Regions from separate parts of the Homo sapiens genome. Here region 1 is linked to region 2. Evidence: fine-mapped expression QTL. A gene starts in region 2. The other region holds a variant in brackets. All regions are shown on one strand. Distances are from middle to middle.

Evidence for each region.
Region 1: its variant is fine-mapped to the expression of OVCH2 in aorta (GTEx, PIP above 0.99).

Annotation. Positions count from the first base shown.
Region 1 is chr11:7,904,092-7,909,476 of GRCh38, forward strand. It overlaps LOC283299 (a long non-coding RNA gene), which reads right to left and starts at 1,864. Exons shown (of 8, transcript NR_036678.1): 1 at 1,512-1,864. It overlaps LOC107984307 (a long non-coding RNA gene), which reads left to right and starts at 2,231. Exons shown (of 3, transcript XR_001748116.2): 1 at 2,231-2,575; 2 at 3,071-3,244. RefSeq lists enhancers at 1,408-2,607, 1,409-1,952, 1,953-2,496, 3,585-4,128. The variant G/T (reference allele first, on the strand shown) is at 3,309.
Region 2 is chr11:7,704,143-7,709,527 of GRCh38, forward strand. OVCH2 (ovochymase 2) reads right to left here and starts at 2,335. Exons shown (of 16, transcript NM_198185.7): 1 at 2,165-2,335; 2 at 423-532. The coding sequence starts at 2,252. It overlaps LOC105376533 (a long non-coding RNA gene), which reads left to right. Exons shown (of 11, transcript XR_007062576.1): 7 at 1,453-1,513; 8 at 2,083-2,136; 9 at 5,259-5,385.

The sequences.
Region 1 (5,385 bases), 200 kb after region 2:
GCACTGATTAGCCCAGTGATTTCCTTTCATACAGTGAGGACAGAATCCTGGTGTTTATTCTGCTGGGTGGGGCACTGCATTGTAAGGTCCTTTCTGTCCTGAGATCTGGCAGCATTCCTTTTTAAAATGTCCAGTTTTTCCACATTTATAATATTTTCCCGTTTTGGGGTTTGACCCTTGGCTCCTTTTAGATTTGTCAACTGATAAATTAGCTATTGCTTGTGCTAACATTGCAGAGTGATGAAGCTCAGTTCCTACATCTTGACAAGCTCTGAGAAAATTTCCCAAGTTTTTTGTACACCTCACCAGTGCCAGTGCACATTTACAATCCGTGTTTGCATCCTCAAAAGCTAGTGTTAAGGTTAGCATTTCTGCAGCCGCAGTATGAGAAATCTGACACTTCACTGCCTCTTGTAATCATGCAAGAAATTGCACATAGGGTTCCTGCAACCCTTGTATGATACATAAAAAGGATTGTACTGGGACTCCTTCAGGAATAGTGGCCCAGGTGCATTTAGTGGCCTGTGCACACTGCTGATAAGCAACATCTGGGAGTCCCATTTGAGGTTCCAGGTCTGAATAAGGGCCATTACCTAATAGCATATCCTCTGTAATGTCTCCATTTCCAGCAGCACAGTTCTGTCTAGCCTGGTCTGCACACATTTCTTGCCAATTTAAATTCCATGTCAGATATGCAGTAGCCGACAAGCAAATTCACGCCAAGTGTTTCACATCAAATGGTAAAAGACGCATAGCACCAAACACAGATTCTAGCAATCCTAAGGTGAATGGGTTCTGTACGCCATTGTTTACCACACTCGCTTTTAATTCCTTTAACAAGTTAAAATCTAGTGGAGTGTGTTCATGAATAACCTGCTGTGCATTGTTAGGATTAGGCCTTATGGAAATAGGAAAAGCGTGAGGTCCTAAGGGCTCTCCAGCTATTGCAGCAGAGCATAAAATTCTTTGTATTGGAGTCTCTATTTCTGCCACCAAAGGAGGCGGTACAAATGTTTCTGCAACTGGAGGAGGCAGTATAGGCCAACTTTTATCCTCCCTCTCCTGTTTTTTATTTTCAGTTGGAGCTGTGGGTGGGACAACAGATTCTTTTAGATTTTTAGATTCAGCCTGCTGTCCCGCAGAATAATGAGATAATAGCAGAAGTACAGTACAAACTAAACTCCAAGTGGAGAAAACAGAAGAATCAACTTCAAGACCTTTTTGATGAGCCTGTTTTAATCCTTCTCCTGCTCTATCCCAGTTTTCCACATCAAGAGTGCCTGCCTGTGGAAACCATGAGTTATGCATAATAACTTTGTGTGGCTTCTGCAGGAGGTTAGTGTCTGAGAATTAACCTGAGCTCCAGACTGTCTCAACAGAACTTTAAGCAACTGCACATAATGTTTTTCTTCAACAGACAAGTTATTCCCCCTGCTACCCTGATTCAGAAAGCTTCCCATTCCCAGCACTTCTATAAAGCACTGCTCCCAGTACCTCTTTAGAGCACTGACCTTATATATGCTGCCGGCAGACTCATCCTGGGGTCCCCGTTTGCCTTGTCAATTTCAGCTTCTCTGCTCCAGCAGATCTTTTTTGTTCACATCGTCGAAGTCCCGTGTTCAGACGCCACTTGTTGGCATCCTTGGCGTCCCTGTTCTGAGTCACCACTTGTTGAGAACCCAATTGTGTCACTGTTTGGGGCACCACTATGTAACCTGCATGGACCTAGGGGGACTGAACAAAGGGGGCAAACACGGGAATAAAAGACAAGAGGCAAAAGAGTATATTTGGAAGAAGGGGTCGGAGGGCACCTTGTCTCTAGTGGACAAGGGCCCTGAGCTTTACACTGCCCTCCATATTTATTAGGCAATAGAGATAGTGAGAAGGTGGGGAGTGGTTGTTGGCCAGCAGCTTGATTCGCAGCAGGCTTGCAAGACTGCATTCTTAGGTGCTAGACTTCTCAATAGATAACTTCAAGGAGCCCAGCGCCAGGGAGTGAGGCCCTCAACAAACCTTTTGGTGGCAGGGCAGTGTGAGTTTGCCCACATCCTGCATTCATGATAAACAGTTTGCTGTTTGATCCTATAGCCTCCAGCGAAATGCTGAGTTGGTCACTTCCCAGGGGCCTTCAGCTCCCTGCACCTCACATTCTGTATTTGTCCTGATTAGCCAGCAACTTAGAACTTTTTAAAAGAGGCAAAGGCAGAGGAGAACAAAGGAGGAAGTAACTTGTGGAATGCTGAGAAAGGTAAAAACACCTCCAAATAAGGAAGAGGAACAGACTATGACTTAATACTTGCTTGGACCAGTGTAAGCATGCCAGGGCAAATATTTAGGCTAAATTGTGGGAGCTAAGAACACAAAGTACATTGATTTCTTTATTATAGCTAGCAGATATCTAAGAATGTTAGCACAGGTCTTTGAATAAATTTTGTTTCTGAGAGAAGTTACTATTTATTCCTAATTAGACGGGGAGGAAAGTCTCTTTGAAGAGGAACCTCTATTTTATTTTTACACTCAGAAGCCCGGGCAGCTCTGCCGGGAGTGCAGGGAGGCAGCTCTCCTGGGGGTGCAGGTAGGCAGCTCTGCTGGGGGTGCGGGGAGGCAGCCAGGCTTTTGTTGCACTTCCATCTACTGGCAGCACACACAGAAAGGAAATACTCCCAGTGGCTAGATTCCACCCATCATATCATTGGACTGAGTGAAAACTTTCAGAACTCTAATTTAAAAAATGAATGCATTCATGAATATTACTAACCTAACATCCAGCTGAATAATAATTAAATACATGGGGCTAGCCTGACAGAGGGTGGAAATGCTTTCTTTAACTTTTCTCTTTGAAACATTGCTGATTATTTTATGTTTTGTTTTCCAGAGTCAAGAAAATGTCTCTTTTTAGCTAATTATAGCTTACAGCAACTGGGTAACCTTTTGTGAGCAAAATTAAAACATCTGCATTTCTCCCTACCTGATTTCTCTAAAATTTGGAAACTATTCATGAGTATTTGTATTTTGTGGCAATATAGTTATTTGCATAAGATCAATAAGAATCTGTTTTCTTTTGTAACAGAACACATTGGATACACCGGTTATTTTACCAAGGCTTTGGCTGGAATGTTACATTTTTGAATGTGACCAAACTGCTTTGAGGAATTGAGGCTGACTTTATAAAGCCAATAGACATGGGAAAGACTGGCCTCATGCCTTGCCCACACGGTTCTCTTACAAGGTTCCTCAGCTTGCGGTAAGTAAAGACTGTCATTTTCTGATGCACCCAGGAACCACAAGATATTTTGGGTCATTGAGAA[G/T]ATAGGAATTCACTCAATTTTTACATATGTTACAAGCAGTCCCACAGTGAATCCCTGGCTTGGCTTACTAGTCTTTAGAGGTTTTAAAAGTGTAATCTGAGATTTCTTATTAAAAATTCTGCAAAGTCAATGGAAAAGAGCCTATATGGCCAATCATTCTTCTTGTTGCACATTTTGCAAATAATCAGGCCAAGTATAATACTAAAACTTATTTAGCCAATAAATTTGTCCTACTAACATTTATATTTGGTAGGAATGGGGAACTGGGGAGAGAAAAAAATTGTTTTAGAAGGAAACTATACCATCCTTCTTATAAGATTCTAGCCCTGACCATTGTTTTTTAGTTGTTTTTTAGTTTTTACTATTTGTCTACAATTTGGACTGAATTCTGAATAATGTCCCAGCTCTAACAATCCTCCAAAGAAGAAATTGGATTTAATTTCCTTCATGATATTTTTAGTTGACTCCCCAGTAGAATAGGTTTTGTTGTTGTTGTTCTGATATACAAATTCTTTTTTTGATTATAATTCCTATATGCATTACATATATCTCTTGTTTTACTTCTTCCACAAAGACTAAACTCATGATATTCTGAAGACTAACAATGATTCAACAAGCAACAGCAACTACATACTTGACTGAGGTGCCATTTTTGCCACCTGTGATGCCATCTCAATTTGGCTTTTGACAGTCTTAAAATTCCTCATTGTAACATTTCCTCACCTCTCCTTCCCATGTGAGACAGCACCATCATGAGCCTTCTCAAACTGAAGGAGGAAGGATATTGATCACTCTAACCTAAGCAGAAATTGATCATTAATGTTTCCATGGAAAGATTTTTGATCAACAGGTGGGAAATGAGAAAAAAAATTGCTCAGAGCCATCTAAGTTATGTGAAGCATACAAAATTTGTCAGGCCCAGAGAGACATGAGTATGGTTATGGGACCTCAATCACACCTCTCACACCCATACCCAGGGCCAACTGTTTAAAGACATTTTGTTCCTGACTAGCTGCTTTGCCCATTATCTTCATGTTCCTGGAGTTTGTGATACAAAGAACAGTGTATAACCAATCAATAGCTTATGTTATTTTAATGTAAATTCTTGGTAAACAACTTGGGAACTGCCTCTTTGTTTCCTTTAAAACCCACTTGTAACTGCTGCTCATAGGGGTGTATATTCAGGTTAACTTGCATCTACGCTCTTGCGTTGCAGTGTTCAAGCTTAGTCCAAATGAACTCTCTACTTACATTGTTTGCCTCGATTTTTTTTCTTCTTTCCGTTGACATATCAATGCAAGGGACCGGAGCAAATATTCCTAGACTGAAACAGATTAAATGCAAGAAAGAGAAGAAAACTTGAAAATATGCATTATCATTGTAGAGAGACTCAATGATTTTTAAAAGAGCATATTCTCAAAAAAAAAGAGATCAATTTTAAAACAATATAGGGGAAATCTTAAAATGGTTTTAAAAATAACTCTGTGGAGAAATGGAGTAACAAAATAGATAACACTGAATACCAAATGATGAGTTAGAAATTCACAGAATGAATTTGATTGAAATTCACGTAAAATTAATGAGAAGTAAAAATTATCATGAAAAAGATAGGAAACATGGAGAATTGATCTGATAGCTCCAATACTCATAGGAGTTTAGATTAAAAAGCAGAAGTGGGGTGGAAGCTATACCCCAAAATAAAAAAGAGCAGAAATAAAAGCAAATCTCATTTTTGCTACACTGGAACTAGAAAACAGTGAAATAATGTTTAGAGTTTCTTTCTTCTTCTTCTTTTTTTTTTTTGACAAAGTCTCCCTCTTGTCCCCTAGGCTGTAGTGCAATGGTGCGATCTCAGCTCACTGCAACCTCTGTGTCCTGGGTTCAAGTGATTCTCCTGCCTTGGCCCCCTGAGTAGCTGGGATTACAGGTGCCTGCCACCACACCCAGCTAATTTTTTTATTTTTAGTAGAGACGGTGTTTCACCATGTTGGCCAGGCTGGTCTAGAACTCCTGAACTCGGGTGATCCACCCACCTCGGCCTCCCAAAGTGCTGGGATTACAGGAGTGAGCCACCGAT
Region 2 (5,385 bases):
GATATTGCAGAGTCCAGCTGAAGAGGTTTGGAAGAAAGGCAAGGTGAGGGCTGGGGAGCCTTTCAACACATACTCCTATTTCTCTAAGCCTCTTAGGGAAATGGTTTGGATCTACCACTTTTCTCATACTCTTAACTATTTGACCCCTATAGCTTCTTCAAGCCTATTCTTTACCCTACCTCTCCAATATACTTTCTAATTTTTGCTTATCCTATTTGTGATACTTGATTTGATTCTAAAATGACTTACTATGTACAAGTAAATACTTTTTCTTATGACATTCATCACATGCCATGATGACTATTCTGTCTTTCAACCCAACTAGGCTGTAGGCTCCTCAAAGATATAAACTTAACCTTAAAAATATCTATATCCATAATATCTAGCACAGTTCTTGATGCATAGAAGTCCTTGAGACTCACCTGCCAGGGATAGGAACCCTTCTCCACTTGGCTTCCTCCAAGAATGCGACTGAAAATGTTAAAATAATTCCAAGGCTGTACCTTAACCAGACTCTGCCCACAACTGGGAGCTGAGAAAAAAACGAGACAAACTAAATGATTAGATAGCTTCTAGGATTGAGGTAATATCTTCTCCATTTCACCCATGAAACTGAGTCTGAGACTATGGTGTATGGTGCTCAGCACACATTCAGATATCAATAAATCTTTATTGGATTTAATTCTCTTGAGGGATGAAAAGTGACAGGTCATTTAAGGAGAGTGGAGTGAAGTGTCCTGATTCACAAGTTGGTACTCGGATAGAGGTTTGCTAGGTAATAGAAGAAAAAACTCCTCCCTCTTTATGTAAAATACTTTATCCCTGAAAAAGTTGTTTTTATTTATTTGCCCTCAATGGGTTTTCTGACTCCTCAGCAAAGAGGTAGACTAGATTAAAGATGTTTAACATCACCTGGTAACTCAAGGATGGCACATCTTCTGTCCCTCCTGGAGGTCATCCTTTTCCATATTTTGAAGGAGGATTAGAACTAGCCTTGCTTCATAATCACCATGCTTCATTGCCTACCTAAATTCTGTAATTCTTATTCCTCAGCTTGGAGATCACCTCAACCAGGAAGTCTTCCTTGATTTCCTCAAAGTGGGATTGCCTCTCCCTTGTGTTGTGTAGCACGCTTTCTTCACCCCTTTTATAGTTCTTGTCATGCAGAATTGTGATAATGAATTATTTGCCTCTATCATCGGACTATGAACTACTCAAGGGAAAAAACTTGCCTTATTCACCTCTGCATTTCTAAGGTTTAGCTTAATTCTTGGCATAAGTAAGCACTTAGAAACACTGGATGGACAAACAAATGACTTTTCTTGAGAACACATCCTTAAGAGTATAGCTATTTAGATCAACATGTTAAAATATTCAAAGCTCTTTCATACAGCTTCTCATTTAATCCCACTCTATGCCTATAAATGAAGCACTGTTATCCCCACATTGCAGATGAGAAAACTGAGAATCAAGGAGACACACAGCTGGATAATGGCAGAGCATGAATGTAACAGTAAGTGTTTTGATCCTGAACCCAGTGCCAGGATGACATTGGAACAAAAGCTTATTTTCTAACTGTTTCAGTTGAATGAGTCATAAATACTTTAAATACAAAATTTACTATTTCCCAAATTCAGTAAAGCAAAGTCAGAAAACATGTTGATTCTCAGGGTTGGCACAAGTCTGACCAAGGAGAAATCTTCCAAGAACTGTTTTCAGCTTAAGTTAGTTGAAGGGGAAAAAAGACCATTTATAATATACTACAGTGAACATGCTTCATATTTCTCAGCAAGATGATTTTGTAAAAGATTAAAAATGCTTCCAAATCCATGCTGATTTCCAGAATTTGCTCTATGAACCAAGATGGGATTATGTAATGGGTTCAAGTAAGTGAACAATCTCAGTTCACTTAGGAAAACTAAGCGAAGAAAACAGGGATTGTTTACTTAATTGGATACATTAGTTGCATTCTATAAATGTTTCACCCTGTGTCCTATGCCGATTGCAGGAGATAAGTCCAAAATAATTGTTTAAAAACAATTAGATATCCAAAATATATTTGCTTCTCCTATTTTCCCAAAGGAACATGGAGTCTCGGAGTTGTGACGTCCATTGCCAGCAAAGGTTCAGACAAAGGTAATTATAGAGTTCATTTGAAACTTACCTTTGGGGAGCGAAAGAGTTGCAGATTTACCTCGTTCAAAAAAGACTATTCCTAGTAGTAAAATCAGCTTGTTCCTGCTTATAAGCATTTTGAGACTCATAGTTTTTCCCTGAAATTTTAGAGAGACTAAAGCAAACAAAAATAGGAAGCCTTGAGAGACCAGCAATAAGCCAATTTAAAACAAGTTTATTCATTAACCAAGACGTGGTGAATCAAGCATGTCCATCTGATGTTTCTGAATGTAGTGTTTCGCAAAGATCTTTTGGAAGATGTGGAGAAACAACCACAGAAGCAGAGTCTTGATCAAGCAATATTACATATCCTATTACACCTACACCAATTAGTTGATTCCTCCAGAGTGTATCTGGCTAGCAAAGTGGTTAGCATGTAAGATTTGCATCTGCAAACATTACTTGCTCCTTTGTAGAGCTTACCACTTTTACCACTTTCTATAAGAAGATTGACTATCAATGTTGTCCTTGTTTGCAAGGGTACACTTCCCTACTTTTTTGCAAACGACCCATCCAAATGTATATAATTTTTTTGGGCAGAGATGGAGTTTCATCATGTTGCCCAGGCTGATCTCAAACTCCTGGGCTCAAGGGATCTGCCTGCCTTGCCCTCCCAAAGGTCTGGGATTACAAGTGTGAGCCACCACGCCCAGCCAATATTCTAAAATATTTTTATTTATCTTATTTTGCAAATGTAACTACATGGTTATTATAAACATATGTTGGTGAATGAGAGAAGTGGAAAGATATTTGGGTGTCACACTCAGGAAGCCCTGCTGTTAGAAAGTCATCTAGGATACTGTACATTGGGGCATTTGTGACTCTGCATTCTCCTATCATTTTTGTATTTATAGAAGGGAAACACTAAATCTCCTTTACTTCTATGCCTGGTAGATGCTTGGGAGAGTAAAGTGGCTATGATTACCTGTACATTTTCCTCTTTCCTCAACGAGTTTTGGGCACATGGTCAGTGTGTGAGAAATATTTATAGGATGGTCAATGCCATCTATGACCAGATAGAAATATAACATTTTTCTGTCAACTTTTATAAGTTACCCACTAAAAATAACAAATGTCAGCCCAAAAGCTCTTAATTTCCTTTTGGCAACTTTTGTCTTTGTACAAAAAAGTATGAAAATACAACACATACAAATAATATAAATGCAAAACAGAGAAGGTGTAAAAACTTAACATTTGTAAGCACTACATATTTAGGTACACTAATCAAGAATGTAGCCTTATGGAAAGAAGGAAACTCAAACCTCTATTGAGGCTTTATCTATAACTACTGTAATCCTGATGCCAAACATTTTTGGCTATTGGTATGGAGTGATAGCCCCAAGAGGTAATCAATCAATGTCTAAGCCCTAATCAAAGTCTCAATCTTTCTTTGACAGCAAGCTCCCTTTAAATTGCTATTGTGTTTTATCAATCACTTTTGAGAGCAACTTGACTAGGAATATGGCCTTTCTGACCCCAAATTCACTACATTCTGTCTAAAATGTGTATACTGTTAATGTCAAAAGTGCAGAAAGACCTAGTGTGGGCCTAGGATGCACTAAACTTGACAAGCCTAAAGTAGGCACATAGCATAGGACAATAAAATTTGACTCTATACTGAAAGAATGATGAGTTTTCCTTTGTAAAATGTGGGAGTGGAGCGTTTTTATTGATTGTCACACAGAAATATGATGAGCTCTTGCTTAGTGCTTAATTTCAGGAGAGGGTATTTGCTTCAAGCTCTTGCATCAGCACAACTATCAGTACACATCAACACACTCTTCACCACATGAAGCTGGTCATTAAGAGTTTGTTACTTTCATCTCTTAAGGGGCTAAAATGTGGCCCCCTTGCTGTTAAAATATTTGCTCTTCATGGGGGATGTAGCAGGTTCTAAGACACTATATTTTTGTAAGTCCAGCTATTCAACCCTCCCAGGGTCTGGATAGGAATTATAATAACTGTACATTGTAGTTACTTGCAGACAGGAATATATTAAAGTGTTGCTTGGCATGGTAGTATAAAATCAATTTTTCATTCATGAAACTATTAAACCTTTTAAAGGGGAAAAAATCTCTCTTGAGAATCTTGGACCAAAGTCTGCACCAAACATGGATTTGGAATTCAAATACATTGTTTTCCCTGTCTGTAAATCCCCAAGTTGAGAAATTAGTATCAAAATTTCTCCTGAAAGCAAAACTGTCTCTCTTCACAGATGATATGATTCTATACCTAGAAAATCTCAGGTCTACCTGTTATAACCTTCTTCTCTCTTTTTTGCAGCAATTATTTTTGTTGAAAGAATTGGTTATTTAGACCTTTAGCATTTTCTACATTCTGTATTTTGCTGATTGCAGAGCTGTGACTTTAATGTGTTCCTATAACCCTGTGATATAATCCATAGCTAATGATTATAACTTCTGTATTGTACCCTCCAATGAAAAGAGAACAACTCCAGTATGAGCAATCTCTCTCTGTCTTTTCAGATTTTTCTGTCAAAACCTTTCACCTTCTGACAGACCTCAGAACACTCCAACTTTGTTGCTGTGTCTTCCTGGGTCAATCCACACATTTGAGGTTCAATAAACCTTTATAGATTTTTTTCTGTCTTGACAGCCTCAATTTTGGTCAACAGTGCCATAAACACTCATCACCAGGAATGTTCTCAGCCACCTCCAGTGGCCCAGAGAAAGTAACAGAATGTACTGTCTGGTAGAGAGTCCCAGGAGTTGGGTTTCTGGACCTGTCTGCTTCTCATTCTCCCTGAAGTTTCCAGCCACCTGGAATTGCCCTGCCCCATGGGCCCAAATACCCCCTCACATCTCCCTCCCAGGGGAAAACACCAACTGGTTCTTACTTGGAATAAATTGGAGTGGGTCTACTCCAGAACTTTTTCAGCAGTTTTCTCCTAACAGGCATGTTAGGTTGTGGTTCTTTCCTTAATTGAATTCCATCTACTTTTTATCGTTCTAGAAATATTCATAATTTGGGGCCACTAAAAGTAGCTTTCCTTGTTCAGGTTTTCCAGCACTGCTATGAGTTCATTTGTTTAATACATCCTTCTTATCATAAATTTGGAGCAGGAGCAGGAGGACACACCGTATGGTCTCAGGCTGCCAACTTAATCCAATCGCTAAGTGGGAACCACTGAATCCTCCTTTATAAACACCTTGCATATTCCCTGTTGCAACTAAGAGATGACACTAAAGG